7 linked regions of the Homo sapiens genome follow. The protein of the gene in region 6 interacts with the protein of the main gene of each other region in a biochemical or structural test. Each region holds a gene or a part of one and is shown on either strand. Other genes may lie near its edges.

Region 1 (3,500 bases), on a different chromosome or scaffold from region 6:
GCTGGTCTCGAACTCCTGACCTCAGGTGATCTGCCTGCCTCAGCCTCCCAAAGTGCTGGGATTACAGGCGTAAGCCACCATGCCTGGCGGACTAAATCTCTTGTAGCATTTGTAAAAACCCATGACGGTCAAGATATTTTTATTAAGTATCTGATAAAATAATTTTTTTCACTCACTGCTTTTCTTAAATAGGGAGAAGAATAGTATTTCTAGTATAATAACAGAATTCTTGTCACTTTGCTTTATGTTACTAATCATTATAAACATTTGTTCATCATTACTGTGAAGAATAAGGTTATTTTTTTTAAAAGCCTGGAATTTCTGTATACCTTATTAACTGACTACATGTTTTTGATGGGTGATATCTGCCTGAAAAAACTTGAATTATAATTAAACTCTTATACCCCATGTTAATATTAGCCCACTCGGTATACAGACTGTTAAAAATTATGTCACATCTTACTTGACTCTGATTACCACTGTACATTTGTATTGGAATGGGTAGATGGTATATCTTCAATTTCATATATTAAGAAATGGACAAACAGAAATGAATGATTTGCACAAACTCACCTGATTAGTGTTATGATTGCTTTCTTATTTGGCCTTAAGGTCTGTCTCTGGAGAGTGGCTATAAATTCTAATCCTGCTGTGTTGTGGCTCAAGAGGAAAAAATCTCGTGAATGTTTTCAGTGTGCGTTTCACAGGATACTTCTTTATCCTGGCACACCCATGACCAGGTGTCCCTCTCTCAGGGAACTTGTTTATGGCAGATGCCCTTGTGGCTCTTTTCTGACCTGTGTCCAGTTTATTCCTACTAAGATAGCTACTCTCTAGGAGACCCTGACTAGGAGGAGAGCAAGGTTTGGGTGTGTTGGTCAGGTGACACACAGAGAAGGCAGCACAACCAAACACACGAAATAACAGAAACTTTTTATTACTCACAGACCCTTGAGAGAAGAGCGGTATGCATGAGGGCCAACAGGAAGTCTGGAGATAGCAGAGTGCTCAACCAGTGGGTGGGGCGAGGGTGGGTGAACAAGGGAGCACGAGCAAGGGAGAGGTGATTTGTGTGACTGCCTTCACGAAAGTCTATGGGTGTTCTTCCTTTGGCTTTCCAGTGGGGCCTGTGGATTGACTAGTTTAAAGAAAACAAGTGTGAACAGGGGAACATTTACATGGCTCTAGTTTTACATGACTCTAGTGTTGACCATTGGATTTTCTCGTGGTCAGCAGCTGTGGGGGTGTGTTGGGTTTTGAGTCAGTGAGATGAGAAACAAGTATACTGTATTGCAGACAACCGCATGGGGGAGAGAGAAGTTTTAACTAGGCCAAAGGTGGTGGGATACAACTAGGTTTCAAGCAACTTATGTCAGGCCTAAAAATAAATGCTGAAGCAACAACTATATAACAAATTTATACAAGTGGTATTGAAGGTGAGAGTAAAGCAGGGTCTTCTGCTTTTAGCTCCTTATTCTTTCTACCTGACTCTACTTTCTTTATACAATACTAGAAGAATCAAGGTCTAAAAAATAAATCTAGTATGAAGGACCTGAGTTGCTTTCTTAGCCTTGAATTAGTTTGGATCTTACTATTTATTTAGAAAGAAAAAAGAAGAGCAATATTGATAGTATTCACAACTCGTGGTTATTTATGTTAATTATCCACTTATTGACAGCATTTAGTTGAGTTCATACTTTTGTATTAGGCACTGTGATCATTGCTTTTCCTACGTATTAATTAATTTTCAACACTGTTATCTCCATTTTGCAGATGAGGAAACCGAAATGTAAAGTTAAATACCTTGTTAAAGATTACTCTCCTAGTGAATAGTAGAGCTGGGATATAAACCAAGTGTTTCTGTCATCAGAACCTGTGCTCTACAGTGCTAATTTAATTTCCATCCTTAATTGGTTCGATCTGCTCCGTCTGGGGCATGAATACATTTGTTTGTTTGTTTTAAGATAGGAAGTAGGAATTGCTTTATTTTTACTTTTTTTATAATTTCAACTATTATTATAGATTAAAGGGTACATGTGCAGGCTTGTTACATAGAATTTGTTGTGTGATGCTGAGGTTTGGGGTACAAATGATCCCATCACTCAGGTAGTAAGCATAGTACCCAATAGATGGTCTTTTAGCTCACACTCCCCTCCTCCCTCCCCGGCCTAGTAATCCCCAGTGTCTATTGTTGTCATCTTTATGTCCATGAGTATCCAGTGTTTATTTCCCATTTATAAGTGAGAACATGTGGTTTTCTGTTCCTGCATTAATTCGCTTAGAATAATGGCCTCCAGCTGCATCCATGTTGCTGCAAAGGATATGATTTCATTTTTTTAGGGCTGTGTAGTATTCCATGGTGTATATATTAGCATGTTTTCTTTGTGCAGTCCACTGTTGATGGGTACCTAGGTTGATCCCATGTCTTTGCTGTTATGAATAGTGCAGTGAACATGTGAGTGAGTGCATGTGTCTTTTTGATAGAACAGTTTATTTTCTTTTGGGTATCAAATGGTAATTCCATTTTAAGTTTTTTGAGATATCTCCCAAAAGTGGCTGAACTAGTTTACATTCTGGGACATACATACCTTTGAATCAAATCAAAGCAATGTGGCATATCATTTTGGAGTGTCAGTTTTTTTTTTTTTTTTGAGACGGAGTTTCACTCTGTCACCCAGGCTGGAGTGCAGTGGCGCAATCTTGGCTCACTGCAACCTCCGCCTCCCAGGTTCACACCATTCTCCTGCCTCAGCCTCCCTAGTAGCTGGGACTACAGGTGTCCGCCACCATGACCGGCTAATTTTTTGTATGTTCAGTACAGACAGGGTTTCACTGTGTTAGCCAGGATGGTCTTGATCACCTGATTTCGTGATCTGCCCACCTCGGCCTCCCAAAGTTCTGGGATTACAGGCGTGAGCCACCACACCTGGCCAGAGTATCAGTTTTACCAAGAGTTGAGAGATAAAACATACAATAGATCTCAAATTCTTCTGATAGAAATATGAAACTCAAGTCTTCCAACTCACTTCTTGTCACCTGTGGCCTGAACTCTAATATTCATTCATTGTTTTATGACCCTGAGGTTACTTTGGATCAGTCATAATTAGAAAAATAGTTCTTTATTTGTAGCAAGAACAGGAGAAATTCAGAAATGCCTTTCAGGCCAAAAGTGAATTATTTTTAGATTATCATATTAGAAAATAGGAAGTGCTTTGTTGGGTTTTATGGCCTACTCTAATGAAAAAAAAAAAAAAAAACTTACCTAACTACAATTAGCTTATTAAAAGTTTGGGATTCACATAACTAGGAAATACTGGATTTTAATGTAGATTTTGTACTTCTGGTCCTTAATGAGAACTTAATATGATAAATAGCATATTTTTAACAGTGATTCTCAGCTCATTTATTTCTATTGTATTATTGCTATTCTTTTTATCCTTTCTTCCAAAGATTCATGGAATTTAAATAAAAACCAGGTAAGTGAGAATTTAGTTAAGTAG
Region 2 (3,500 bases), on a different chromosome or scaffold from region 6:
TGGATGCCTTTTTTCCTCTCTTACCTGATTACTCATCTTCCATCTAAAAGGTGGAAAGGCTTTTTGTTTTTCTGCATTCAGTATGATACTAGCTGTGAGTCTGTCATATATGGCTTTTATTATGTTGAGCTATATTCCTTCTATACCAAGTTTTTTTGAGGGTTTTTAATCATGAAGGGATGTTGAACTTTATCAAATGCATTTTCAGCAGTAATTGAAATGATTAAATAGTTTTTGTCCTTTATTCTGTTGATGTGATGTAGCATATTGATTGATTTGCATATGTTGAACTATCTTTGCATTCCTGGGATAAATCCCACTTGGTCATGATAAATGATCTTTTTAATGTGTTGTTGAATTTGGTTTGCTAGTATTTTGTTGAGGATTTTTGCATCAATATTCATGAGATATATTGGCCTGTAGTTTTCTTTTTTTGATATGTCTTTGTCTGGTTTTGGTATCAGGTAATACTGGCCTCGTAGAATGAGTTTGGAAGTATTCCCTTCTCCTCTATTTTTTGGAACATTTTGGGTAAGATTGGTATTAGTTCTTCTTTAAATGTTTGGTAGAATTCAGCAGGAAAGCCATCAGGTACTGGGCTTTTCTTTACCAGGAGACTTTTTATTATGGTTTGGATCTTGTTACTTGTTATTGGACTGTTCAGGTTTTGGATTTCTTCGTGGTTCAATCTTGGTAGGTTGTATTTGTCTAGGAATTTATCCATTTCTTCTTGATTTTCCAATTTACTAGCATGTAGTTGCTCATAGTAGCCACGAATGATCCTTTGAATTTATGCAGTATCAATTGTAATGTCACCTTTTTAATCTCCAATTTTATTTGAGTCTTCTTTTTCTTAGTCTGGCTAAATGTCAGTTTTATCTTTTCAAAGAAACCAACTTTTTGTTATGTTGATCTTTTGTATTGTTTTCTTCATGTCAGATTCATTTATTTCTGCTCTGATCCTTATAATTTCTTGTAGTATTTTTATAGTTTTGGGTCTTATGTTTAAGTCTTTAATGTATTTTGAGTTGATTTTTGTGTATGGTGAGAGGGAGGGGTCTGGTTTCATTCTTCTACATGTGGCTCTCCAATCTTGCCAGAACCATTTATTGAAGAGGATATCCCTTCCCCAGTGAAAGTTCTTTGTCACTTTTGTTAAAGATCAGTTGGCTGTAAACAAGTGGCTTCGTTCCTGGGTTCTCTATTCTGTTCCATTGGCCATGTGTCTTATTTTTATAACAATCCCCTGCTGTTTTGCTTACTATAGCCTTGTAATATATTTTGAAGTTAGGTAATGTGATGCCTCCAGCTTTGTTCTTTTTGTTTAAGATTGCTTTGGCTATTTGCATTGAACCTATAGATTGCTTTGGGCAATATGGTTATTTTAACTATATTATTCTGATCCATGAGCATGGGATGTTCTTTTGTGTCTTCAGTCTCTTTCATCAGTGTTTTGTAGTTTTTTGTGTAAATAAAATTCTTATATAATTCTAAGATTTTTGGAAAAAACTCCCAAATTTTGCCTAGGCTTACTGAGCTGCTTGAGCAAAGCATCTCTGAATAGAGCCAAGCTGATGGTTTGGGCCTTCTGACTCTACAGACCCATGTTTTCCCTGCCACTGATAGCTGGTGCAATCTTTTAGCCTCTCATTTATGTTGGGAACCAAACATTATGTTGGGAACCAAAACCAGCCATTTTCAGATGTCTTCAGCTGAGAATAGCATTAGCAGCTGCATGCTTCTTCCTCGTAGGCCTTACTGTGACAGTAATGAATTTGACATAACAAGAAGTGGGGTATATATGAAGGTGAGAGTCAGCAGTGGAATCCTGTAGACTTCAAGGAAAACATACAAAGCCTTGGTTTGGGGGCTTGAGCATTCTTAAATATGCTTTTGCTTGAAGCAATGTATTAGGATTAGTTATAAAACTAGTTCCATCAGTTATTTGGATACTTGACATTTTTGCTTTGTTGTGAGAACTGCCTGAATTTTTCATACTTTTTCTCTTTTTAGATATGTGATTCTGTTGGACTGGCAAAACAGATAGCTTTGCATGCTGAACTGGTAAGAATCCAAGATGTGGCTGGGCACAGTGGTTCACACCTGTAATCGCAGCACATTGGGAGGCCGAGGCGGGCAGATGACTTGAGGTCAGGAGTTCGAGACTAACCTGGCCAACATGGTGAAACCCCATTTCTACTAAAAATACAAAAATTAGTTGGGTGTGGTGTCGTGCACCTGTAATCCCAGCTACTGAGGAGGTCTGAGGCACGAGAATGACTTGAATCCGGGAGGCGGAGGTTGCAATGAGCCGAGATCACACCACTGCACTCCAGCCTGGGCAACAGAGCGAGACTGTATCTCAAAAAAAAAAAAGGAATCCAAGATGCTTGATTTTCCAAGAATGTTAACTAAAATAGTATATTAGCTCTTTCATATTAGCAAGTAAATAAAATGATTTTGCTAAGCAAGGTTAACAGTGATACTATTACCAACATAGCATTTAGAATTTGGATAATTGTTTACCATTGAATATAAACTGTTGATGTGCTTTCTTATGTATAAATGCAAAAAAATATTGAAAGGTTACCATGTGATATTAACTGAAATGTCTAAAATTTAAAGTTATTTCATATTTAATTCATTAGTTTTATTCATCTGTTCTTTAGGATCGTAGGGCATCAGAAAAACAAAAAGAAATAGAGAGAGTAAAAGAGAAGCAACAGAAAGAACTCAATAAACAAAAACAGATTGAAAAGGTATACAGTCCTAATGTCTGGATCTTTATGTGTTGTTTGTGAAGACTTAATTCAGCACTATGACTTTCAGATTTGAATTTCCAAATGAAGGGCTGTTTCTGCTTGTTCAGCCACTTCATAAACAGATGATTCATACCATAGCAGAAAAGGGTCACATCTGTTTTTTGATATGATGTTTACATTATAGTTACGTTGACATGTAATATGACTGTTTCAAAAATATACCAGAACTTTAATATTTCAGAGGAGGTTGTCTCTGTCAAAGCAGTTGAGAGGCTGTGTAGACTTAACTGCCATTGCTGAAAGCCATTTTGCCTTCTATGGGGGGGAAATAAATAAATATATATGTTATATGAAATATATAATGAAATGTATATTTTTAATATTGCCAGGAGTGTCAAATCATTGTCCATCCAACAGAATAATTTTAAAAGACAAATTTCAGAGCAAAACTTGAAGAATGCATTAAATGATCCATGAAATTGTAAGAGCGTGTTATGGGTTGTAGATTGACAGTAGGAATAGAAAAGAGGAGACAGCTGGGATGCTTAGAACAGATCAATAAGCATTGGCTGTGGGCTGGCTCTCTGGACAAAGAAGAGGGAAGTGGCAAAGATGACATTGAAGTGAGGCTTTCTTGATAGGCGAGGCTGAGGGAAGGTGACACCTGATTTAGCAAAGATGAATTGGACAGGGATGGAGAAAAGGGCTGGAGAGGGGAAGGGAAAGGAGTGTGGGGGT
Region 3 (3,500 bases), on a different chromosome or scaffold from region 6:
TTGCTAGGAGGGGAGAGGGGTAAACAGGAAGTGAATGCTAATGGGTATGGGGTTTCTTTTTGGGGTAATAAAGATGTTCTGAAATTAGGTAGTGTTGGTGGTTTTACAGCTCTGTGAATGTACTAAAAACTGCTGAATTGTTTACTTTAAAAGGTAAACTTTATGATATGTGAATTATATCTTAAGAAAACTGTTATTCTAAAAAAATAAATTCTTTAAGGTACATCTCAGTGCTTCTTCCTTTATGTAACTTTTCCTTATCTGTCTTTGACGTTTTCTTCCTCTTATACTCCATAGCACTTTTGAGCAGCTTGAATAGGACTTTATAGTCTGCCTTTTATAGGATAATTATTAGCATGTCTTGTTTCCCCACCCTCCTCCTTTAATTGCAGACTCCCTGAAGGTACTTTTAGTATTCCAGCTAGTGCAGTGCCTTGTACAAAGTAAGTGCTTGGTAAAATATTTGTTAAAGTCTGGATTGGGAGGAAGAGATGTAAAAAAATGATAATAATTTTAATTTAATGTAAGAGCTATAAAATCTGCTAAAGGGGAGTGGGTGAGGTCAAGGAAGAGTTTTAAGTGGAAGTGATGTTTGAACCAAGTCTGTTTTGGGTTGAGTAGGGTGTTTCCCACCTGGACACAGCTGGTAGTAAGGTGACACATTACAATGAAAGGGAACAGTCATTGCAAAGAGGCACATGGTCCTCCTATTTCAAACCTCTTATTCTGTATGTAACATGATACTGTGACATTTTAGGAGTCTTATCTTATCATCAAAGGTCTATTAATGATGATTGTTTAAAAACATTTTTGCGAAGTTAGCAACTCTTGAATAGTAATTTGGAGAAATCTCAAACTTTGCTCTTTAGTTGAGATTGATATTTTGAAGAACTCATTATTACTTGTGTATCTATTTTAGGATGGCTTTAGATGACAAGCTCTACCAGAGAGACTTAGAAGTTGCACTAGCTTTATCAGTGAAGGAACTTCCAACAGTCACCACTAATGTGCAGAACTCTCAAGATAAAAGTAACTTTATTTTCTGTATATTTAGCTTTAAAACCTTCTTAATGCTTTTGTGATTATTTGTTTGGGTGGGCCTTCACAGAGGAAACAGGTAAAATGTGAATACTTTGCACTATAAATAGACCCATTTGCAGAGAATACGATTGGATTTAGTTCTTAATTCAGCTGCCTAAATCTCATACAAACAGACATACATCTCTGCTTAACACCCAGAATAAGCTTGAGGGCACGGACTGTGAGCCTCAGTGTTCGAATTATATGTTGTTGTACAGTGAACATTTAATTTCTTCATCAAATGATTTGATCTGTACAGTCCTAACAATCCATCTCCATTTTTTCCAGATCAGTTAAACATACCCTAATTATGGTAATTTTTATTACTTACAAAGGTCAAAGGTATTAATTTGGTTAGCAAGTTCAGTAGACTTAAGAGAATGGCTTTTGGATTTCTCTGTTGATTTTCTCCTTTGATTTTTCTGGCAATATATTAATATTCTAGAGAGGCAGAAATCATTATTCCTGAAAAAGATACTCTACTGCTAAAATGCTTTTTGGCTTAAAGTTTTTATGTTGGGGGATATTTTAGCTTATTATCTTATTTAGGGGTATACATGGAGCTTTTTTCTTTGTTTCTTAAATCAGTACTGCCTCCTTATTTATTTATTTATTTGAGACAGGGTCTCTCTCTGTCATCCAGGCAGGAATACAGTGGCATGATCATGGCTCAATACAACCTTGACCTCCTAGGCTCAAGCAGTCCTCCTGCCTCAGCCTCCTGAGTAGCCGGGACTACAGGCATGTGCCGCCATGCCTGGCTAATTTTTTATTTTGTAGAGAGGGGTCTCACTATGTTGCGCATGCTGCCCTCAAACTCCCAGCCTCAAGCAATCCTCCTGCCTCAGCCTCCCAAAGTGCTGGGATTACAGGCGAGAGCCACCTTATCTGGCTGCCTCCTCTTTAAAAAGAAATGAAAGTTTGATTAGGAAGACTTTTAGTAACCAAGAATCAAAGAAACATCAAAAGAGAATTATCATGAATTACATTTAAAATGGAGGCACTGAAATTCATCTCTCTCTTTTAAGACATTGTAGAATGTATAAGGGGAGTTCCTTAGAAGTATTAATATTATACCATTTCTTATTAAATAATGCACCTTATAGCATTGGAATTTAATAGTACCAATTATTATGTCTTAAAGTCCTCTTAGAATGCTTTGGGTCATTTTAAGGTTATTATAACGATTGGAGAGTTCTTAACGTTAGTAAAAGCATGGATTTGCCTACACAGAATTGATAGTTTATTGACCATTTCCTGTATATTAGGCACAATAATAAGCAATTCCTATGTGAGATCCACATTTGGTCTTCTGTAATACCACTGGGTAAGACACTATTTTTATCTCCACATTATAGATGAGGAAATTCAGTCTTAGGATAAGCAACTTGCCCATGGTCATATAGCCAGTTTACATGGTAGAGCCTGAATTTAAACATGTTAGATTTCAGAGCCCAGACTTCTAACCATATGTTAACCTCTCTGAATAAAATTATTGTGCCAGTTGGAGTTTGGGATCATTTATTTATATCTAAATGCTATTACATTTTAGTACTAATTTTCCTATATCTAGACATTGATTAAGATATATCTGAATTTTCTTTCTTATTCCTTATATTTAGGCATTGAAAAACATGGCAGTAGTAAAATAGAAACAATGAATAAGTCTCCTCATATCTCTAATTGCAGTGTAGCCAGTGATTATTTAGGTAAGTTTTTTATATTAATAATTTTTCTCATCAACAATGCTGTTTCTCTGACTTTTGTTTAAATTGCTGAAATTGTGGCTAGAAGCAAGTTCTTTAAATTTGTCAAGACTCTCTTGATGTCATGGCCTTTATTTCTTTGTGTTTTAGTCTCATTCTGTCGTACTGCAGACACACATTCTTCCCTGAAGGGTCATAACTACCCGTGGCTTCTAGTTGGAGCAACTGACCTTTGAAGAAAGGGGCTGCATATTCCCAATTCTAGTTTGAAAATTTTGGGGGAAAGATTATCTCTGTTTGGGTCTTGGATTTATCCCTAAAACTAGAGGTGTTCCCAGGGCACTGATGTACCATGGTTGACCCAGATTGGGCTAATAGTCTATTACTGGAAGCATGGGAGGGATGAACCTGGGCAAATAAAAACAATAGCTGTAATAGAGTCTGGTCTGCAGTTCTTGAAATATCAGTTGTCACAGAAAGTTTTCCATTGATTTTTATGCCTCTCCTGAAGATTTGGATAAGATTACTGTGGAAGATGATGTTGGTGGTGTTCAAGGGAAAAGAAAAGCAGCATCTAAAGCTGCAGCACAGCAGAGGAAGATTCTTCTGGAAGGCAGTGATGGTGATAGTGCTAATGACACTGAACCAGACTTTGCACCTGGTAGGTTTTATTCTACTTCGAAATTAATTCTATGGGAATTCAGTCAAAAAAGT
Region 4 (3,500 bases), on a different chromosome or scaffold from region 6:
GGTTCTGCTCCTACAGATTAGGCTGACAGCTCTTGGACTTATATTTATTAATATTTGTGAAATATGAACTCCAAGGTTCTTGAGCTGTTCCTAAAGCAAGTTTCCAGCAACAGCTTTTATTAACAACTGTTCATCTTGCGATGTGCTGTGCCTTATGAACGATGTCTCGTCAGAACAGACCAGGGGTGGTACTGGGTTTCCTATAGCTTCTCTCTGCATCTACAAAGCAGGTTTTCAAACACATTTTACATGTCGAAACCAGTGTCATAAGGAAAACATTTGTGACAGAAAAACAATGCTCAGTTTAATCTAAGTTACCAAGCAGAAGGTAAAAGAACTAGTATCCGCTGAGTCCCCAAACCTCTTTCTTCTAATTCATCTGAGGATTTTTTGTGCTTCTAGAACAAGAATGTAGGCAGGCTCCCAAATGGAGAGGTAAACATGACCGCGTTGTTTGAAACTACTTCATTAATTTGTAAATCAGAACCAAAAAGCTCTGGCCCTCCCACTTCTCTTAGCTGACCCTCCTCCCCACTTACGGATAAACAGACTTTAACTTCCCTAACCCAGAAACACTTCCACCAAAAATGTATGGTTATACCTTATCCTAAAAAGGCACCATGCAGGCATTTAAGACTGAACCAGTGAACTCTAAATATGTAGTAGTAGAAAATATCACTAATCAAAACTTCCAGCATCAGATGGTACAAAACCCCAAGAGGACTGGTGACATGTACCCCGGGATGGCAACCCCAGCTTCTGGCAACCCCACAGCCCAGCGGGAGCTTCAGCTCTGGTCAGGTGCACGGCTGCCAAAGTCTGCACACCTTGGGGACAAGGAAAGGAGACACTTGCTTCATTGTGCTATTCATGACCCAGAAAAGGTCCTGGCTGGCTTGAAGGACCCGAGAGACAAACACTGGATGGGAGGAATGAGTGTGAAACAAGAGGTGGAGAAGCTAGATTATCTTCCACAGGAGGCGGCAGAAGCTCCAGGAAGTAGCCGAGAACCAATACGAACTCGACCGTGTGACAAACAAGGTTAACAGTAGGGGAAGACAGCTTTGGCAAGAGCCCAAAGGGAAGAGAAGGGCTGACCTGGGGACCCACTTCCCCTGTCAGAAGTGACCCTGTCCCAATGCCATGGCTCATTTTCAGGTCTGTTGAACAGGTAAGGTACAGGAGTCATAGATTTCACGTTTAATATGTAATGGAAGCTCTGTAACATGAGACAGATAGCAAGCACGGACTCTGCTCACTGGTCGATGATGGAGCGCTGCAACACCTGATTCATCATGTCCTCTTCATCAACATCATAATCCTAAGGGCAAAAAGAGACATGCAGCCTCAGCAACTGTTTCTAGATGCAAAGACTGGCTTTCAGTAGAAGCAGGACAGCCTAGCAACTGGATCCGGAGCAGGTTGCCAGGGACCGGATCCCCAGTGCAACTGTTTGTGATGCTAGGTATGTAACTTTGGGAAAATTAATCTGTCTCTGCTGCCTTCTCTTTTTTTTTATTTGATGGAGTCTCGCTCTGTTGCCAGGCTGGAGTGCAGTGGCACAGTCTTGGCTCACTGCAACCTCTGCCTCCCAGGTTCAAGTGATTCTCCTGCCTCAGCCTCCCGAGTAGCTGGGACTAACAGGCGTGCGCCACCATGCCCAGCTAATTTTTATGTTTTTAGTAGAGACAGGGTTTCACCATGTTGGCCAGGATGGTCTCAATCTCTTGACCTCGTGATCCACCCGCCTTGGCCTCCCAAAGTGCTGAGATTACAGGCATGAGCCACTGCACCCAGTCTGCTGCCTGATTCTTAAATGAAGTTAAGGATGCCTCCCTTAAATGGAGATTGAGAAACCCAGACAGCACACGAATGGAGGCTGGCACAGACCAAGTGCTCAGAACATTTGTAAGTCTGTCGGAACAGAGCACGCAGATGCACTGAGCTGAAGAGTTGTTTCTGAGAGGTGGAATCAGTGCACAGTACAGAATCAGATTTTTAGAGCCATACAATACAGCAGAAACTATAGCGCAACTAGCCCTCTTTAATGAGTCATTTTTAGGACTCATTTTTAATGAGTCATTTTTGTTAATGTGACACAGATGAATGTAATTCATCTGTGTCACATTAACAAAAAGGGCAGTTATTCTGAAGTCTGAGTTTCAGACACTGTCAGACTGAGAAAAAATATTCTTTATGACAATTTAGCAGAGAGCTTTCTTTCTTAGATACTGAAATTCAGCCATCAAGACCGAATACCACTCTAAAATCCTAACTTGACATCTATATATGTAAGTAAGAGGTTTACTTGATATAGTTGGCCAAAGTTACCTACTACTATAATGGCAAGACAACAGTGTGCCCCTTTGAAACCATCCAGCTCTAGGGAAAGAATATAAACCTGACAGCCGTATTTGGCTAGTGGATATATGCTATTTGACCTGAAGTATTTTTGAAGATAATTAAAACCTGTGAAACCTCCTGTGAAATTTTCCTGTCCTGCTTGGGCATGGGGGGTGGAGAAGCTAGGCAATGCTGCGCCTGCATTTCCATAGGAAAACAAGGTGATGGCAGCATAACGAGTCAGGCACCACCTGGCTTGGAAATCCTCAGGAGGATCATTTCAATTATGGTCCCCATGGACATGCGAGATTGAGCCTCCCAAGTCCAAATTGTTGTTGTGTGTGTGTGTTTTGTTTTTTTTTTTTTTTTTTGAGACAGGGTCTCATTCTGTTGCCCAGGCTGGAGTGCAGTGGCATGATCTCAGCTTGCTGCAACCTCCGTCTCTTGGGCTCAAGAGATCCTCCTGTCCCAGCTCCCTCAAAGTAGCTAGGACTACAGGTAGGAGCCACCACACCTGGTTACTTTTTGTATTTTTTGCAGAGACAAGGTTTTCCCATGTTGCCCAGGCTGGTCTCGAACTCCTGAGCTCAAGCGATCCACCTGCCTCAGCCTCCCAAAAATGCTAGGATTGTAGGTATGAACCACTGCACCGCACCTGTCCCCAAACCAAGTTCTATAACAGGCAGAAATTATATAAACCACAAGAAAAGTAGACAAAAATTTGGTGGCAGGGCTAGGAGATGGAAAGAGCAAGTATCACTGTCTCTGTCTCAAAGACTGACCAGATCATCTTCTTGTTTGTTTTGAGACAGTCTTGCTCTGTTGCCCAGGCTGGAGTGCAGTGGCACGATATTGGCTCACTGCAACCTTGCCTCCCAGGTTCAAGCGATTCTCCTGCCTCAGCCTCCCAAGTAGCTAGGATTACAGGTGCCCACCACCACACCTGGCTAATTTTTTTGTATTTTTAGTAAAGACGGGATTTCACTATGTTGGCTAGGCTGGTCTCGAACCCCCGACCTCAGGATCCGCCCACCTCGGCCTCCCAAAGTGCTGGGATTACAGGTGTGAGCCACTGCGCCCAGCCCAGATCATCTTCTTAAATGTCACTCTGGGCCGGGCGTGGTGGCTCACGCCTGTAATCCCAACACTTTGGGAGG
Region 5 (3,500 bases), on a different chromosome or scaffold from region 6:
AGTTCCGGCTAATACTAAAATAGCTGCAGGGTCCTATTAAGTCAGGAACCCTAGTGTCTTCTCAACAATTCCTACCTTCTAGCCCCTTTGTATCTAGTTGTAAAGCAACATGCTACTCTAAGAACAGCTGTTTATTTTCCAGAAGGGTATTCATTTCCACCAGATTTCAACTTAAAAAAAAATCCTGCAAGAGTGCAAGCTACACTTAACACTTTTTTCTAAGATACAGAACCCACTAGGGAATGCCCTGTTTTCTGACATGTGGGCCTTGCCATCATCCCCCTTAAGGTCACTTCGGGATACTAGATCTGACAACCGAATAATGCTTGAAAATCCCCAAGCATCTCTAACACGTAACTCTTTGAGGATGAGTAGTGCAAGAGAGGGCAGTGCAGGAGCATTCCTGGGCAATCCTAACACTGCTGGAAAGGTTTCTAGAAGTTGTGCCTGTGCTACCTAGAAACTTCTGTTGCCAGCTAGAATGTCGTAACTTCTAGAATACACGTTGGTAAACTCTTAAAAGCCTATCCTTTATTTGCTTCAAGGAAAAGATTTCAGCTCAGAGTCCCATTAAAGCAGAAAAAACACACAATAATCATTTAACTACATGACAGACAGCACTGTAAGTAAATGGCAAAGTAAATGGGCCTCTGTCATCACATATTCAGCCATCTGCCTCCTGAGAAACAAGGGTGCTTACCTTCTTATTATCTTCTTGTTTCAAATGGGGTACCTTGATATAATATAAACTAAATTCCAAAACAGGGCAAAAATAAGAAAATATTTGTCTTAAAGAGACAGCTCAGAACTATATATTTTAAAATAACGGAATTTAGATTTTATACAAAATGTGTGGAAAAATGACAAATTATAGTCACTAAACATAAATTTCATTAAAGACATTATCAAATATCATAGATGCAAATAAAAACAACAATAAAAACTTATGGTTAGAGTAGTATTAAAAATATAAGGCTGAAACCAGATTACATGAGTTGAGCGAGTCGGGAGCAGAGGACCAGCTTGCTGGCTGGTACTGGAATACCACAGAGGCTCCACCACTCATTAGCACAAATGGGGCGGCCGCATGACGCTGACCACAGATATTTATTAGCCAGATTTTATAGTTATAGATAACTGGGGGCACTTAAACAGCTGTAACAGCACTAACTCCAAACAAGAATCAACAGTAAAATTACTTTGGGTAAGCGGCCTGAGTCTGCTGACTAGGAAGGGCTGGGTTTGCGGATGGTGGGACCACTGCCTGGCTGAGAGAAGACAGCTGCTCCGGGGGAAGACTGTAGCTCTGGAGGTGGCTCATCTGCGCGTTCCCTGCAACCAGGTAGGCACCACTTGGAGGAGGCCCTGCATACACCTGCGATGGTTAAAGAGAAATCATATTCAATTCTAAAATTTTAATAAGCATACTGAACTTTCTCTGTAGAGGTATTCAGTTACAAAAACAAGAAAAATCACCACTCTGGAATCCTTTTTTCAAAGTTATTTCTGTCAACGGGCATTTTGAAAAACGCTTTTCAATGAAATAGGCTGTTGATGGTTTTCATTTTTAGTTAAACATATGCTAAACTCATGTTATCTCCATACTGAAGCATTAAAGAAACTTATCCTGAAACTTTATACTAATCTCCCTTTACATTAAATATATTTTAATATTCTGCATGTTGGTATTTTTTAAGGAATCCCAAAGGATATTTAGAAAGTGTATTTGAACTCATTGTTTTGTAGCCATAGACTGCAATGGATACAAGTCACATTTCCTAAACTGCAGTTTATTGAACAATAGAGCAAGCTAACTTTCTAAAGCAGGGGTCAGCAAACTTTTTTGTAAAGGGCCTGACGTAAATATTTTAAGTTTTGTGGACCATGTAGTCTCTGACACAACTACTCGGCTCTGTCAGTAAATCAGAGTGGCTGTGTTCTGATAAAAGTTTATTTAAAGCCGCCAGGCATGGTGGCTCATGCCTGTAATCCCAGCACTTTGGGAGGCCGAGGCAGGCAGATCACGAGGTCAGGAGATCGAGACCATCCTGGCTAACACAGTGAAACCCCGTCTCTACTAAAAATACAAAAAATTAGCCAGGCGTGGTGGCGGGCGCCTGCAGTCCCAGCTACTCGGGAGGCTGAGGCAGGAGAATGGCCTGAACCCAGGAGGCGGAGCTGGCAGCGAGCTGAGATCGCGCCACTGCACTCCAGCCTGGGCGACAAAGCAAGACTCCGTCTCAAAAAAAAGTTTATTAAAAAAAAAAAAAACAGGCAACAGGCTGGATTTGTCTACTTCTGTATTTCAAAATGCATTTTTTTAATCTAAAGAGATTGAAGTCTTAACTACCCAAAGTCTAAAACACATAATGTCCTAATTTTCTGCAGTATTCATTAGATCCTTCCATTTAGCACTTCTGTTAAACGACAGACCCACACAGGGATCCAAAGGGTCTTCATTATAAACACAGCTATACCAGTCCTCCTAACTTTATTTTGTCATTCTTCGAAAATTGAACATGAAGGTTTTTTGCTTCCTTGTCTCAAACTGGTGATCAAGACTCTAAAGCAGGTGCCCTCTAGCCCCAAGTTTCTTGGGCCTAGCTGTTCATCTACAGGGTGCTGGCCCCTCATTCTGCTAAACGTTAATCTGAACACAGTCCGTGCCCACTTTACATGGAAAAAATGGAGTATCTGGCTAGTTTTGTTTTTATTTATTATTATTATTATTATTATTTTTTGAGGTGGAGTCTTGCTCTGTCGCCCAGGCTGGAGTGCAATGGCACGATCTCGGCTCACTGCAACCTCCGCCTCCCGGGTTCATGCCATTCTCCTGCCTCAGCCTCCCAAGTAGCTGGGACTATAGGCACCCACCACCACGCCAGGCTAAATTTTTTGTATTTTGAGCAGAGACAGGGTTTCACCATGTTAGCCAGGATGGTCTCCATCTCCTGACCTCGTGATCCACCCGCCTCGGCCTCCCAACGTGCTGGGATTACAGGTATGAGCCACCGCACCCGGCCAGTATCTGGCTAGTTATTCCCTATAACCTCACCTCACCGTGATGAGTTTGTGAAAAGGGGGTCCTTGAAATAGTTGCTTGGGGTGAAAAGAAAGCAAACGGCTCTACACTGCATTGCATGCATTCTCATGTAAAGCAGGGAAAATTCCAGATTAAAGCAGTTTTTAAATTATGGAAATATATTTTGTTGGTTTGTAATAATAAAAACAGGTTTTTACCTCATTTTTTTTTCACTGCATTTAAGTTTTCCTTTTAAGGATAACTAGAAGTTCATTAGATATTTAAGAGAGTTTTCTTAGCTCTAAAAGCATTTTGTGTTTTTTACGAAACTACTTTATTGAGATATGTCTGACCTGCAAAAGGCTATACATATTGAGTGTACACAACCTGATGAAGAACTAAGGTTCTTAAGTAAATAATTACATACGAAGCTTTAAAAATATGGGCCTCGGCCGGGCGCGATGGCTCACACCTGGAA
Region 6 (3,500 bases):
AAAAACCATACTTTGAATTTTGATTTTTGTCTGAGCTAGCAATATGTGCTATGATACACTGGTGATGCTAGGCAGTGGCAGCGAGTCACAGCTCCCAGTCAGCCACACAATCACGAGAGTGAACAACCAATACTCTATAGTGGACTGTGTTGTCAGATGATTTTGCGGAACAGTAGGCTAATGTAGGTATTATAAGCACATTCAAGGTAGGCCAGACTAAGCTATAATGTTTGGCAGGTTAGGTGTATTAACTGCATTTTCAACTTAAAAAAATATCATCAACTTAAAAGGGGTTTATCACGACATAACCTCAGCGTAAGTTGAAGAGCATCTGTGTATGTGTGTATTTCCAGGAGTTGATATTGTCAATGGTGTTGTCAATGTTAGTGACATACATAGTCACTTCTTGTTATTTGAGGTAGTTATGCTCTGTTAAGTTGCTACAAATATTGAATTAGCAAATACTAAAACACTGCTTCTAGAAGAAATATGTAGTGTGTTTATATGTATATGTATGTGTGTATATATATCCATCCATCACTTTAAAAACGTGAAATTCATGCATTTTACATAATTCAAAAATCTTAAAATCTAATTTACCATTTTCTTTTGTTCGTTTGTTTTTTGTTTTTGTTTTTGAGACAGAGTCTCGCTGCAGTGCCCAGGCTGGAGTGCAGTGGCACGATCTCAGCTCACTATAGCCTCCGCTTCCCAGGTTCAGGCAGTTCTCCTGCCTCAGCCTCCCAGGTAGCTGAGACTACAGGCACGCGCCACCATGCCCAGCTAATTTTTGTATTTTTAGTAGAGATGGAGTTTCACCATATTGGCCAGGCTGGTCTCGAACTCCTGACCTCAAGCCCACCTCAGCCTCCCAAAGTACTGGGATTACAGGCGTGAGCCACCACTCCTGGCCTAATTTACTATTTTGTATATTTTAAAAATTCACACCCAAGTCAGTTCAGTCCTGTCTGCCTTTCCTACTTTTTTATAACTCACAAATCCATTCTCTCCTTTTCCACCATAGAATAAGTAATGGTTGATATTCTTAGCTTTTCAGTAGATGTGATGGTTGAAATCATGGGCTTTGGAGTCACACTGACCTAGTTTTAAACCCTGGCTCTACCCCTTAATGGCCATGTAATCATAGGAAAATTATTTTTTGTGTCTACCCTCCATTTTCTCACATGTAAAATTGGTGCAAGAACCCCATGAAGCATGTACTTCGTGGGATTACTATGAAGATAAACAAAATTATACCTAGGCCTTAGTCAAGCACTCAGCCCACACAGTCAGCTCCACCTGCCATAACCTCCTCCAGTGCTCCCCACACTTATTATATAACCTCCTCAGTCACCTCTCTGACAATACCTGTTTTGTATTATCACCTCATTTCCTCTATTCTTTCAGACGTCCCATGTCCGTTCTCTACGTGGTTCAAATTCTTATTCTCTTTAAGGCCCCCATTTTGTGCTTCTCCTGCTTGGGCACCCCCTTTTTACTCATTCCAGATTCTCATAGCATTTTAGTACATACTTGTTTCTGACACTTTGTTTCTTGTTTGCTAGTTATGTTCCTATCTTGCTGCCTCTTTCAAACTAATTCTCCTTGAGGTCCATTCATGTCTGATTCATTTTCTTCTTCCCAGAGTCTTATACAGAAGTTGCTCAATAAATACTCATGGCTAGGATCAATTTGAAAGTTTGATGTTATTTTAAGAGTTTTGATGAGACCCTGGAAACAATTGTAAATAATTTTCAAATTGGCACAGTTCATATTTTAACAGATTTCATTGCATTCTCCTTCCTAGGTAGAGTTTAAAGAGAATTGTACTGTAACATTTTCAGTTTCCTTAATTTGGAGTAAATACTTTGAGGTTTTTGGAAGCACCCCAAAGCTTTCTCAAACACTTCCATACCCTGTTTATGGTAGTATAAATTGCCATAGCACGTTTTTTTAGAGAGTGATTTGGCAATATCTGCCAGAATTTTTAATGCACTTATTCTTTGACTCAGCTATGCCCATTGTTAGGAATTTACTCAAGATTACCTCTAGAAGTACCAAGTGCCAAGTTCAGGATTATTCACTCTACTCAAGAAAGTAATTAAATTATCCACACTATACAGAAATTAAACGAGTATGAAGCTGTTGGTGTTGATTTACAAAGTGCTACAAGATACATTAATAAGTGAAAAGAGCAAGGTATATAAAGTGATCCTGGCCAAGCACAGTGGCTCATGCCTGTAATCCCAGCACTTTGGGAGGCTGAGGCAAGAACAAAACTTGAACCCAGGAGTTGGAGAGCAGCCTGGGCATAGCGAGACCCCATCTCTACCAAAAAAAAAAAAAAATTAGCTGGGCATAGTGAGACGCACCTGTGCTCCAGGGTACTCAGGAGGTTGAGGTGGGAGGATCGCTTGAGCCCAGGAGGTCAAAGCTGCAGTGAGCCATGTTCATATCACTGCACTTCAGCCTGGGTGACAGTGAGAGCGAGACCCTGTCTCTAAATTAAGTTTTCTCTTTTGTAGACATTTTAGAAAATCTTAAGTCTGTGAATATATTGGCCTTTTTTCCTCCACAAAACACACACAGACACACACACACCCCCCCCCCCCACACACACACACACAAATCATCAGTAAGTTACATTTGGGGAAAAGAAGGAAGAGGGACTTTTTTTGTTTTGTATTTTTCCTTTTTGTGGTGTGTAAGATGTGTATATATCAGCTGAGTATATCATGATACAGGATCACAGACCTTAGAGGATTTTTCTTTATATTACTTTGCATTTTTTAACCCAAAGCATTTATGAAATTACTGGGGTAGGGAAAAGAGAGTTTTCTTGTGATTAGGAGTGGATAGGTGAGTTTAAAGTATTCAGACTTGATATTAGCCCTTTGTCAGATGAGTAGATTGCAAAAATTTTCTCCCATTCTGTAGGTTGCCTGTTCACTCTGATGGTAGTTTCTTTTGCTCTGCAGAAGCGCTTTAGTTTAATTAGATCCCATTTGTCAATTTTGGCTTTTGTTGCCATTGCTTTTGGTGTTTTAGACATGAAGTCCTTGCCCATGCCTATGTCCTGAATGGTATTGCCTAGGTTTTCTTCTAGGGTTTTTATGGTTTTAGGTCTAACATTTAAGTCTTTAATCCATCTTGAATTTTTTTATAAGGTGTAAGGAAGGGATCCAGTTTCAGCTTTCTACATATGGCTAGCCAGTTTTCCCAGAACCATTTCTTAAATAGGGAATCATTTCCCCATTTCTTGTTTTTGTCAGGTTTGTCAAAGATCAGATGGTTGTAGATGTGTGGGATTATTTCTGAGGGCCCTATTCTGTTCCATTGGTCTATATCTCTGTTTTGGCACCAGTACCATGCTGTTTTGGTTACTGTAGCCTTGTAGTATAGTTTGAAGTCAGGTAGCATGATGCCTCCAGCTTTGTTCTTTTGGCTTAGGATTGACTTGGCAATGTGGGCTCTTTTTTGGTTCCATATGAACTTAAGTA
Region 7 (3,500 bases), on a different chromosome or scaffold from region 6:
AAAGTTATAAAGCACATTGTAAAATTTTCTTCTTTTGAGTTATTAAAGAATGAAGCGAATAGTACATATGGTTAATGACAGTTTAGCTAATTCATATAGAAATAGCTAATTAATACAGAAGTGACACAAAACTTGTGAAAGGAAGATTGAGTGCCAGTAATCCATAGCATTTCACCTGTTCTTTTCTGAGAATCTGTTACTTTATTGACTGCTTAAGGATTCTGATTTGTTTAGAATAGGAAGTATTTAATTAATTTCTACTATCTATTCCAGTTGTATATGTATCAGCTGTTCCGAAGTTTAGCCTATATCCATTCCTTTGGAATCTGCCATCGGGATATTAAACCGCAGAACCTCTTGTTGGATCCTGATACTGCTGTATTAAAACTCTGTGACTTTGGAAGGTAAGCTACTGTCCCTCTCCCTGCCCCTTCCCTTTTCCCCTCCTCCCCCTACTATCTTCTTTTAAATATATTCCTTTTGCAATATCAGCCTAAACACAGTAATTCTTATTCAAGAAGTATAAACTAGTGCAGCTGTGAGAGTAGTTTTGTTAGTTTCTGTCAAAATTATAAATGTATATACTCCTTCATTTAACAGTTTAACTTTTAGGAATTATTTCCTTAGGAATACATATTTACAATACAGTGTATATATAGGGATTTTTATTATAGCATTGTTTATAAGCATCCATTAGTAGGAAAATGGCTAAATAAATTACGGTACATGCAGAGTAATACATGCAACCATGAAAAAGAATGAGGCAACTCTCTGTGAACTGAAAGGGAATGATGTCTAGGAAACATTAAATGAAGAAAGCAAGATCAAGAGTATATGTATTGTATGCCACCTTTTATGTTTTAAAAACATACAGAATGTGACTATATATATATATATGTACACACACACATATATACACAAGTACATGTGTGGCTTATTTCTGAAATGGTACGTAATCCATAATATTTGATTGCCTGAGAAAGGATCTTTGGGAATATAATGTAGTTGGGAAACTCACTTTTTCATTGATTGTATTTTAGTATTGTTTGAATTTACATTAGGTATATATACTCCTTTTTCAGTAAGAACTAAATTTTTTCAAAATATTGATTATTATACATTCCTGTGTATCTTTTTAACTTCACAATTAACCTCAATTCAGGGATGAGATAAAAAACAATGCAGTGTTTTCTTCATTTTCCTCTATAATTTAACCTTTTATTCCACCCTTTTTCCTGCAAATTTCATCAAACTTTCTGCTTTTAAAAGCTCATTTCTTGGTAATATACTGTGAATTTGTAATACAACTTTATTCTTTCCATTTTCAGTTTTCAGTACTTTGTGCCTCTCTGATCTAACCTTTTAACATGTAGTCAAGCCTACATTCCCATGTAACTCAGGCAGTTACCCCGCTACTTCCTCACTGGTGTAATCACCTAATCTCTCTCCTCATGGTCCCTAAGACATCTTTACATAATTTGGATTCTCTCCAATTTAATTTTTTCACCCTTGTTACAGATTCTTTTCACCATAGCTCTATAGATAACATATTGCCCCACACTTGTTAATACCTGTGTTCCTATCCCTTTGTAATACTTTTACATCAATTCACAGTTTAAATTTGGGGTTTAACATAGGATATGTTTTCCACAGGCTTCTCTTGAGACAGATCCTTTAAAAAATAAGTAAATCTGTTCTGTCATGAGTTAATTTTTCTTAGTCTCACAATGTGTCCTCTTTCAGACTGTCCTCATTTTACTGTTTTCTAATTTCAGATGACCTATCACTTTGCAGGCCATGACTCTGTTCCCTGAACTATTTTTAAAAAGGGTGAAAGATAGTAAAACTCTTACCTGGTGTTTGAAACAAAGCACTACTACTTGTCTATAGGAAAAACTGCCCAAATCAGATATGTTTTATTGTTAATGGGGTGTCTTCACCATTGAGAGTGACTGACTTGGTAGGGACAGACTGAGACACCAAGGTTAGAAGAGCTTCTGTTCTCATATAGTGTCAAAACACTTGGTACAGCCCATTCTCTTGGGACATAAAATAGCTTTATTCTGATAAATTTGGAAGAGGGATTTCGCTTGTTTGATAGCTCATTTTTATAAACCCTCTGATTTTTTTGTTTTTAACAAAATTGGTTTGGTCAGATGGAGTTTGGGAAACACTTTGGACTGTACATTATCAGATTGGTAATTTGAACAAAATACTATTACTTTCTTCTTATTTTTTTACTAGATGAAAAGGGGCCAAAAAGTAGCTAAAGAACTAGTTGGGCTATTTAGGAACAAAAAGCTAGATGTGATCACAATATTGGGAAGTAGTTAAAACCAGTCTCCTCTGTAAGAGAGGCTGCTCCGTTTTTGTAGCTCCATCAGGTAGTGAAAAAACTTCAGGCTACAAAGCTTGGGTATTAACGTTTTGTCTCGTAATGAATTTTCTGAACATAATTAGCATCTATCTTGTTAATTAAAAAGCATCCTTTAGAAGATATAACAGTCTCCTATCAATTATGCTGAAAACTAAATGTCATAATTTTCATGCAGCCTAAAAACAGGGATTAGTATTTATTAATTTATGAAATGGTTATTGTATGTCAGTACTTGGGGAGAGGGTTAAAAAACAAACTTCAAAACTAGTGATGAAGGAAAAAGAAGTTAAGGTTAGAGTCATCATTGACTAGAAATAAATGGAAGAAAAGAAATCCCAGTCATTGAAATCCTTGTGACTACTTTCATCTGTCTTTACCCTGGTTTTCCAGTACCTTTACTTTTTTTTTTTGGCACTTACTGTTTTACTGTTTTGATTTTGTTGCATTTTGTCCCTTTATTTATCTTTATTATTAATGTATGTCAGAATGGCTGGCTTCTACAGCAGTTTATTTTATTCTGTCTTTGGATTATCTTGGGCGACATCTCAAAAGAAATTAATTGTAATTTATTATACTTCATATTTAAAATACATGCAATGAAGTATTTTAGTAGGAAAATTGGAATAAGAAAACATGCAATTATACTTACTATAGCAGAGTTAGAATTTATAGGCAGTGAATCATTTCTGCCCTGAAGTTGAAGGGCCTGTTTATAATTTATTGGGTAATAAATGTTTATGTGGTTAATAAATTGACCAAGATATGGAAAAATAGATTGAGTCTATAAGCCTTGAAATATTCGCCGTGAGTCAGAAGTCAAAATGCAAGACAGTGGCCAGTTTCTCACCCTTTTTAAAGAAATACATTGGGTGAGGAGTATTCATTCTTAGAATCCATTGTCATGCTTTTTGGTGGGGGAGGTACCTCTTTTCTGCCCTTGCTTCTTTGTATTTTAGAGGTGGAATTTGGGGAACAGAGGATCAGAAGAAATTCAACACTTATCCTTTTTTGCTTTTGGTGCCTTCTTAGGTGACAAACGCTTTCTTTAAAAATTGCTATTCTTTTTTGCAGAGCAAGGTGATAAAATTGTAAATTTCTTTTATTAGAGATAGTTACAGTTTAC

Evidence for each region.
Region 1: of the proteins of MAP3K1 (region 6) and SPART, one has a biochemical effect on the other in vitro, tested with the Homo sapiens proteins (one large-scale study listed by BioGRID).
Region 2: of the proteins of MAP3K1 (region 6) and APPL1, one has a biochemical effect on the other in vitro, tested with the Homo sapiens proteins (one large-scale study listed by BioGRID).
Region 3: of the proteins of MAP3K1 (region 6) and RAD51AP1, one has a biochemical effect on the other in vitro, tested with the Homo sapiens proteins (one large-scale study listed by BioGRID).
Region 4: of the proteins of MAP3K1 (region 6) and RNF114, one has a biochemical effect on the other in vitro, tested with the Homo sapiens proteins (one large-scale study listed by BioGRID).
Region 5: of the proteins of MAP3K1 (region 6) and STAM, one has a biochemical effect on the other in vitro, tested with the Homo sapiens proteins (one large-scale study listed by BioGRID).
Region 7: the proteins of MAP3K1 (region 6) and GSK3B form a complex in vitro, tested with the Homo sapiens proteins (one study listed by BioGRID).

Annotation. Positions count from the first base shown.
Region 1 is NC_000013.11:36,308,395-36,311,894, reverse strand, and holds part of SPART (spartin), read left to right. Parts: intron 1-3,500. UniProt on the Homo sapiens protein: Lipophagy receptor that plays an important role in lipid droplet (LD) turnover in motor neurons.
Region 2 is NC_000003.12:57,265,729-57,269,228, forward strand, and holds part of APPL1 (DCC-interacting protein 13-alpha), read left to right. Parts: intron 1-2,013; coding exon 2,014-2,064; intron 2,065-2,613; exon of another isoform or gene 2,614-2,669; coding exon 2,670-2,759; exon of another isoform or gene 2,760-3,500. UniProt on the Homo sapiens protein: Multifunctional adapter protein that binds to various membrane receptors, nuclear factors and signaling proteins to regulate many processes, such as cell proliferation, immune response, endosomal trafficking and cell metabolism.
Region 3 is NC_000012.12:4,545,390-4,548,889, forward strand, and holds part of RAD51AP1 (RAD51-associated protein 1), read left to right. Parts: intron 1-392; coding exon of another isoform or gene 393-443; intron 444-919; coding exon 920-1,029; intron 1,030-2,702; coding exon 2,703-2,789; intron 2,790-3,297; coding exon 3,298-3,447; intron 3,448-3,500. UniProt on the Homo sapiens protein: Structure-specific DNA-binding protein involved in DNA repair by promoting RAD51-mediated homologous recombination.
Region 4 is NC_000020.11:49,949,897-49,953,396, reverse strand, and holds part of RNF114 (E3 ubiquitin-protein ligase RNF114), read right to left. Parts: intron 1,322-3,500; coding exon 1,256-1,321; 3' UTR 1-1,255. UniProt on the Homo sapiens protein: E3 ubiquitin-protein ligase that promotes the ubiquitination of various substrates. In turn, participates in the regulation of many biological processes including cell cycle, apoptosis, osteoclastogenesis as well as innate or adaptive immunity.
Region 5 is NC_000010.11:17,706,651-17,710,150, reverse strand, and holds part of STAM (signal transducing adapter molecule 1), read right to left. Parts: intron 1,376-3,500; coding exon 1,200-1,375; intron 1-1,199. UniProt on the Homo sapiens protein: Involved in intracellular signal transduction mediated by cytokines and growth factors. Upon IL-2 and GM-CSL stimulation, it plays a role in signaling leading to DNA synthesis and MYC induction. May also play a role in T-cell development.
Region 6 is NC_000005.10:56,888,549-56,892,048, forward strand, and holds part of MAP3K1 (mitogen-activated protein kinase kinase kinase 1), read left to right. Parts: intron 1-3,500. UniProt on the Homo sapiens protein: Component of a protein kinase signal transduction cascade. Activates the ERK and JNK kinase pathways by phosphorylation of MAP2K1 and MAP2K4. May phosphorylate the MAPK8/JNK1 kinase.
Region 7 is NC_000003.12:119,912,948-119,916,447, reverse strand, and holds part of GSK3B (glycogen synthase kinase-3 beta), read left to right. Parts: intron 1-273; coding exon 274-404; intron 405-3,500. UniProt on the Homo sapiens protein: Constitutively active protein kinase that acts as a negative regulator in the hormonal control of glucose homeostasis, Wnt signaling and regulation of transcription factors and microtubules, by phosphorylating and inactivating glycogen synthase (GYS1 or GYS2), EIF2B, CTNNB1/beta-catenin, APC, AXIN1, DPYSL2/CRMP2, JUN, NFATC1/NFATC, MAPT/TAU and MACF1.